Homo sapiens: one gene and its partner. The protein of the gene in region 2 interacts with the protein of the main gene of each other region in a biochemical or structural test. Each region holds a gene or a part of one and is shown on either strand. Other genes may lie near its edges.

Region 1 (3,906 bases), on a different chromosome or scaffold from region 2:
AAACCCCAGCCTAGGGCCCAGTCTTCTTCTTCTTCTTCTTCTTTTTTTTTTGAGACCGAGTCTCATTCTGTCACCCAGGCTGGAATGCAATGGCACAGTCTCAGCTCACTGCAACCTCTGCCTCCCAGGTTCAAGCGATTCTCCTGCCTCAGACTCCCAAGTAGCTGGGATTACAGGCGTGGGCCACCATGCCCAGCTAATTTTTTTTTTTTTTTGTATTTTTAATGGAGATGGGGTTTCACCATGTTGGTTAGGCTGGTCTTGAACTCTTGACCTCAAGTGATCCACCCGCCTTGGCCTCCCAAAGTGCTGGGATTACAGGCATGAGCCACCGCGCCTGGCCCTTAGGCCCCAGTCTTCTACTTGGGTCCCCGGCAGTCTTCCCAGGAGGGAAGGCGATAAGATTACATAGGGCAGGCTGGGACTCTAATCAGAGGGCTGAGATGACTGAGAAGCTCAGTGAGGTTGAGGGTTTGGACAGGGACTTGGATCTAAAGTCTTGGGGATGCAGGAGCTGCTTCCGGGTTCTACAGAACTCTAGCTGGGAGAGTCTGGGGGAATGGGGAAATACAAGTGGCTTAAAAACCCGGGCCCCTTTATTGCGGGCTACGGGATCTGGTTTTGGTGGCTACAGAAGGGTTCGGTCCCAGGCAGCGTGGGTCCAAGACAGGGCAGGAGGGGCCTGATGGCCACGCGAGCTCTAGGAAGCTTCCCGTCTGGGCAGCTCAGCTGCCTGGAGAGGTCCTTGCTGGGGGTCATGCATCTCGTGGGGCAGCGGTGATGGGGTGGGGTGATAAGTGGTGATAGGGCTGGGCTGGGAGCCTTTTTCAAAGATCCAGCGCTTGTAGAGGTTTAGTGGTCAGTCTTTGCAGGTGGTGAGGGGAAGGCCTGGTAAGGGGCCCAGAGCTGGATGGGGATATATTTCCTTGACCTGAAGGGCACGAGACAGAGATTTGGCAACGAGAAAAAGGAACAGGAGAGATGAGAGGGTGAGGCTCATTCCTGCGGAGGAGAACCTCGTATTCTGGGGGTCTCTCGGGGCATTGGAGGGTCTGGCCAAGGCAGGAATGGGGGCGGCTGAGGGGGACAGTCGCATTCACTTGGCGAGCGGGCCCAGGGATTCTGCAGGAATTGGAGGGAGGGTTGGGCCGGGGCTGCGCTCACCTGCCGAGTAGGGCGCGGGCTGGTGGTCGCGTAGGGCGCCAAGTGCGCAGTTGGAGGAGCCGAGCGCGGGGCAGGGCGGCCCTGCCGCGGGGAAAGCGGGCCGCAGGGGGCTGTATTGGAAGCCGCCGGGCTGGCTGCAGGCGCCAAAGTCGCCGTAGGCGGACGCCTCCATGGCCGCCACGCACGAGTCGTACGAATTGAGGTAGGAGTAGTCCATCGGCCCGGGGGGCGGGGGCGGGGGCCGGGCCAGGCCGGGTCGGGGTCGGGGTCCGGGTGGAGGTCGGAAGGGAGGTTCGAGCGCCAGGCTCCGAGGACCCGAGGCCAGCTCTGAGCGCCCGAGAGTCCGCCCGCCCCGTCGCGGCCGCACTCAGCCCGGGTGCAACGCAAGTGCAGCCAGCCCGGCCCGCGCGCCTTTTAACGCGCAGGACCCCGCGGAGGGGGGCGGGGCGGGGCGAGCTCCGAAGGGGCGGGGCCTAGGAGGCCCAGACACCGCCCAAAGCCGCCCCGACCCCCACCCCGAAGGGTCCCCGCCGCCGTCTTAGGGCTCAGAGGTGTGGAGCTGGGATGCGCGGGACCCTATCCCCGGAGTCCCTATCCTGCCCCAATCCGGACCAGACCTTCGGTCTCTACACAGCGTCCGAGGCCAGAGGGTCCCGACCCTTTTCCCGGGCCTCCCCACCTGCGGCCCCGCGGAAGGGAGGGGAGGCAGGCCTGGCGGCGCTCGTGTGAAGAAGTTAATTCAATTCGCTCTGATAACCGAGTTATTCCGATCTGGCCCCTCAGCCCCGCCCCCAGCGAGGTCCCATCCCGGCGGAGACTGCGGAGGCGGCCCAGGAAGGGGGATGGAGACCGGGAAGAGACGGAGCCTGGGATGGGGACAGGGAAGGGACGTGGATAGACAGAGGAAACAGAGACCGGGAGAGAAAGGGGCAGAAACAGTGATGGAGACAGGGACAAGAGATACAGGTACACAGAGGGAGACAAGGACGGAACATACACAGCGAAAGACAGGATGGAGCGGGGACAGGGCAGAGACAGGAGATGAGGGTAAGAGAGAGACAGGATGGAGCGGGGACAGGGCAGAGACAGGAGATGAGGTTAAGAGAGAGACAAGAGGAGACAGGGAGACAGGGGGACGAGAAAGAGAGTGAGGGAGGCATGGAGACAGAAGGGGTCGGGATGAGACATGGACGGCAACCAGGACTGCGGTGGAGAGCAAGGGAGGGATGAGACAAAACAGAGGCAGGAATCGTGAGACAGACACATATGCCCAGGGACAGTCTGAGAGAGACAGGGCCAGGGACAGCCACAAGCGCGGGAGCAGAGGCTGAGAGCGGAGAGAAAACGCCTCCGGGGAGCTTAGACACGAGGGCTGGAGCGCAGAGGGGCCCAGGGATGATGCTGGAGGCTCTGGGGTGCGGCCTCCACGGGGCTGCGGAGAGGGAGGGTCGTGGGAGCCAGGTCCCTCTACCCTGACTTGTCCCGAGGCCCACACGACCTTGCACCTTCAGGGCCCGCCTGCCTCTCCCCCCGTTCCCTCAGCTCCATCTGCAGTATGCGACCCTCTCCTGTGACCTTGGGCTCAGGATGCGATGGATGTCAGAAAGGGAACGTACCCCGTGACCTCTTTATTGTTCTTCAGTCTCTTACCCCTGTTCTCCAGGGCCCCCCGCTTTTTTTCTCCAGGGAAACCACCTAGACTCAGTCTGCACCTGGCCCAGACATCCCTGCACAGATTCAGTCACCAGCTCCCTCGTGCTGTGGGACAGCGGGACACATTCAGAATCCTTACCAAGAGAAGGGAACAGATAACTTTTCCGTCGCTCCTGAGCTGGGTTGGGCAGCTCGTCCACTCAACCCCCAGCCTCTTCCACCGATCTTGGCAGGTCTTGTAGATGGGGAGTCCTAGACCCATGGAGAAGCCGCGGGAAGGGCGTGTCTTTGTTTCCAGCTGAAGTCCTTGGGGGTTGATAGAAGGACTCCTGGAATTCTCCCCAAGTTTGTCAGGACAGAGGGGAGTGCGCCTCTCCTCAGGTAATCCTTCCCCCATCATCCGTTCTGGGCTTCCCAGGAGGACTCTCTATCCCCAATCTCCGGAACCACTCCATGCCAGGGGATTTCTTTGAGGTTTCTCAAATTACCTCTTGTCAAATGTTTTTATTGTGGCAAAATACACATAACATAAAATTTACCATCTTAGCCACTTTGAGCTATAGTTCTGTGGTAGTAAATACATTCATATTTATGTATTAATACATCCATCTCCATAACTCTTTGAATCCTGTAAAATCAAAACTCTACCCGTTAAACAACACCTTCCATTTCCCCATCCTACCTGCAAACCGCCATTCCTCTTTCTGTCCCTATGATTTTGTGTTTTTTTTTTTCAGACAGTCTTTCACTCTGTCACTCAGGCTGGAGTACAGCAACGAGATCATGGTGCAGTCTTGCATTCCTTGGCTCAGGCGATCCTCCCGCCTCAGCGTCCTGAGTAGCTGGGACTACACGTGCACACCACCATGCCTAGCTAATTTTTAAATCTTCTGTAGAGATGGGGGTCTCACTATGTTGCCCAGGCTGGTCTCTGTTATTTTGACCAGGGACCTCGTATAAGTGGAATCATACAGTATTTGTCTGTTTACTTACTTATTTTTGAGATACTCTTACTCTGTCACCCAGGCTGCAGTGCAGAGGTGGGATCATAGCTCACTGCTGCCTCAACCTTCTGGGCTCAAGCGATCC
Region 2 (3,906 bases):
CTTTTATGATTTCTTTTTTCTGTACCATGTTGTCCATTTCCTTTACCACTTGCAATGCTATCTGGAGCCACGAGGTAATTCATTCATTTTTGTTTGTTTGTTTGTTTCAATTAAAAGCATGAGAAAAGCTAAATGTGGCAAGTTCTGAAGCTTTCAAAAGTGAGGCCACTCACCGCTGGTCTCTGGTGGACAGAGCATCTCAATCCCTAACTCAGCCCTCCTCTGGACTCTTCTTCCTCCCTTCAATTCCCAAAACTCCCTTTGGGTCTTAAAGCAGCCAACCAACTAATTTCCCTGAATTTTTATATGTTCCCAGCCCCAGTGCAATCTTACTTTGTCTACCTGCTCCCAAGGCCTAAATGTGTTTTTATAAACAGACTTTTCAAAAACGTATCAAATGTCAGAGAATTGAACTACCAGTATTTACACATTCGGGGTTTGCCTCCGGGTGAAAATGTAAACAGAACCCCCAACCACACTACCTGCATTCTTTCCTTGAAGAACCAGGTCTTTAAAAGGCTCTCCTTGTGCTAAAAAATTGCAGACCCACGCAAGTTGGGGGTTTAGAGCAGTAGGTCACTATTTTGTTCCGAGCTCAACTGCAAGCCCCTGGCGCTTACCAACGAGCCTAGTTTCAGTTAATCCCTATTCTAGGTTCAATGCTTTAAGACGCTTGTCTGGGGACGTTCAAGGATGTTAACCCCTTTCCTAGAAAAAGAATGGGCCCTGCACCGACTCTAATCCTGGGCTTTTAAGTCCCTGTCTCCTACCGCCCAGCCGCGGCAAACCTGAAATATATATATTTCTCAATCCTGCTGCCCAAGACTCTAGGGCTAGTGGAGGGCAGAGCCCGAGCACAGAGTCAACTGCAACACCGAAGTTGGGCGCCCTCCATTCGCACTGACCTCGCCTTCCTGCCCCAACCACTTTGTCGGCGGTGAGCAAGGAAAGGACTGTCCTTGTGGAGTCCTTCGGGTGGGGATCGCTTTGTGGCCTGCGGCCGGACTCTGCCCGCCTCCAAAGGGCGATGCTCAAGGTGGAGTCTTTGGTCTCCCTTGGGCTAACCTGGCCTGACCAGCGGCGAGCCCCAGGCCGCCCTGTCCCGCGCTGGCGCCGCAGGCCCTCGCCTCCCTCTAATTTACAGCCCGCGGGCTCCTGTTGACACCGTTTTCCACACCGAACTCCTTCGGGTGGAATCTGCATATACACATCAGCCTCCCCTCTCGGCTTGGGGCCAAGCCTGGGGTGATTTCAGCTCCTGCCATTTACCACCCGCCCTCGCCGCACGTGAGCCTTCTCAAGAAGCTCATGCCACACGGGCGCTGCGGCCCGGGTGCCCCGCGGCCCGGTGACTTACAAGTGGAGATCCATTTTCCGTTATAATGCGTTCAAGATCACCAAGGCCAGCAGTCTCAACATCCACGAGCCGTCCTCCCGGCCTGCCTCTTAAACTGGCGTTTAATGGTTCCCCTCCGATAACTAAACCTGCTTTCCACAGATGCCCGCTTTTATGAGGGAGGCAGGAATGCAGAGATATATTTATATGTTTGTTCATAAAAACTGGAAAATAAGCTCTGAACACGCCGTAAAAAATATTCAGTTACTTACCAAACAGGCTAGTTAAACCAGGGGAACACCGATACCAGCCACACTACAGATTCGGGGAATCGAGGTGCCCGCACTTCAAAATCGCCCAAGGTCTTCGTAGGGACTGGTGTCCCTGAAGGATGTGGAAATAACAGCATTTACAATCGGCTTGACATGTTCGCCCGGAGGACTCAGCCGTCATCTCCAAAGTTTGCCGCAATAACGTGAGCCACCCCAAACAGCTCTAACCGGGGTAACTTGGTGGGTAACTCAATAGCCACTGAGACCGGCGTTTCGAGCCTGTAAACGGGTCAAAGAAACACCCTTCTCCAGCCGCTCCTCGTCCCTGCTGGGGCAAAGAGCGCCAGCTCCCAGCCGCGCCTTTGTGGGGGCCCCCACCGCCCGTCACGAGGCTCCCGGCGCCCCTGCATAAAATTGTAAGAGGCTGCCTGCGTATATTTTCTTACCTCGATTACCTACAAAGCACTTCGAAAAGCAATACCTGCGTTTTCTTTCTTTCTTTCTTTTCAACCAGAAAAGAGAGCAGAGTGATACTGTACCTGGTTAGAGATTCTTCAATATTTGAGACTTGGGGGGAAAATATTTTAATAGTGAAGCATCTGTTAAACACTTGCATTATCCTCTGACTGATAAAAAAAGTTTTTTTAACCCTGCCCCCCCCCCCCGCCAAGTTTTAATTATCTTATGGTTATGAGGAGGTAGCCAATCCTGGAAGAGGACCTCGGCAATTAGCAACGTGAACATCAAAAAGTTTTATTGCCGAGAGCTCGAGGCGCCGCCCCTGCCGCCCCGGGATTGGCGTGAGGAGCCTCTGACGACATATATTAACCCGAGCGGCCCTAAAGATGTAGCTGTACATGGAGATCTTGCTGGGAAAATCCGCTTGCTCCCCTCACGTCGTCCAGCCCAGGAGAACCACCGCCGTCACCCCGGAGCTTCCTCGGCCACCGCGCAGAGCCCTCCGAGAGCCCGAGCCGCGGTCTTCGAGCTCCAAGGCTCATTCAGGGCCCCAGATCCTTGCCCCGAAAGGAGAGGATCTGAGAAAATGGATGCACTGAGACCTCTCTGAAAACCCTCCGAGAGAGCGCGAGAGGAGCGAGGACACGTTACTCGCAGCTAAAATCACATTTAAGGACCAAAACAACAACAACCAAAAATTTCATTAAAACAATAAGCGCCCAAGAACCCAGATCGGGCTGGTGGGGGGAGGGGAAGAGGCGGGAAGGGGAGGGTCGCACGGAGGTAGCTTTGCAGTGAGCAGTCGACCCCGCCGCCCCCCGGCACAGCTGGACCGGCTCCTCCAGCCGCGGCTCAGACTCGCCCCTGGATTCCGGGTTAGCTTCGGTGCCAGGACCGCGGCCCGGGCTTGGATTCCCGAGACTCCGCGTACCAGCCTCGCGGGAGCCCCGGCACCTTTGTATGAGCACGAGAGGATTCTGCCTCCGCGCAGCAGCCCGGGAAGCAGGAGCCGAAGCGCGGGCCGTGGAGCAAGGCGGGAACCGGAGGCGGCGGCGGCGGCGGCCAGGGGCGCACGGTGCCAGGACCAGCTCGCCGCGCCCCATGGGGAGCCGGCGGCCGCAGCGCTGCTGAGGCGGGCCCGGCTGGCCAGGCGGGGGGACGGGGCCCGGGCTGCAGCAGCCCCCTCTGCGGCTGCCGGGCGGGCCCGGGCGCCCGGGGGCTGGGGGGTGGGGGGTGGGGGAGGACGCCGAGCGCTGAGGCAGGGGCCCGGGCCGAGGGCGCGGCGGGGCTGCGCGCACGCTGGGGCGCGTGGAGGGGCGCGGAGGGCGAAATGAGTCTGGTAGGTGGTTTTCCCCACCACCCGGTGGTGCACCACGAGGGCTACCCGTTTGCCGCCGCCGCCGCCGCAGCTGCCGCCGCCGCCGCCAGCCGCTGCAGCCATGAGGAGAACCCCTACTTCCATGGCTGGCTCATCGGCCACCCCGAGATGTCGCCCCCCGACTACAGCATGGCCCTGTCCTACAGCCCCGAGTATGCCAGCGGCGCCGCCGGCCTGGACCACTCCCATTACGGGGGGGTGCCGCCGGGCGCCGGGCCCCCGGGCCTGGGGGGGCCGCGCCCGGTGAAGCGCCGAGGCACCGCCAACCGCAAGGAGCGGCGCAGGACTCAGAGCATCAACAGCGCCTTCGCCGAACTGCGCGAGTGCATCCCCAACGTACCCGCCGACACCAAACTCTCCAAAATCAAGACCCTGCGCCTGGCCACCAGCTACATCGCCTACCTCATGGACCTGCTGGCCAAGGACGACCAGAATGGCGAGGCGGAGGCCTTCAAGGCAGA

The links.
Region 1: the proteins of HAND2 (region 2) and PHOX2A form a complex in vitro, tested with the Homo sapiens proteins (one study listed by BioGRID).

Annotation. Positions count from the first base shown.
Region 1 is NC_000011.10:72,242,624-72,246,529, forward strand, and holds the start of PHOX2A (paired mesoderm homeobox protein 2A), read right to left. Parts: upstream 1,554-3,906; 5' UTR 1,382-1,553; coding exon 1,165-1,381; intron 1-1,164. UniProt on the Homo sapiens protein: May be involved in regulating the specificity of expression of the catecholamine biosynthetic genes. Acts as a transcription activator/factor. Could maintain the noradrenergic phenotype.
Region 2 is NC_000004.12:173,528,781-173,532,686, reverse strand, and holds the start of HAND2 (heart- and neural crest derivatives-expressed protein 2), read left to right. Parts: upstream 1-2,457; 5' UTR 2,458-3,397; coding exon 3,398-3,906. UniProt on the Homo sapiens protein: Essential for cardiac morphogenesis, particularly for the formation of the right ventricle and of the aortic arch arteries. Required for vascular development and regulation of angiogenesis, possibly through a VEGF signaling pathway.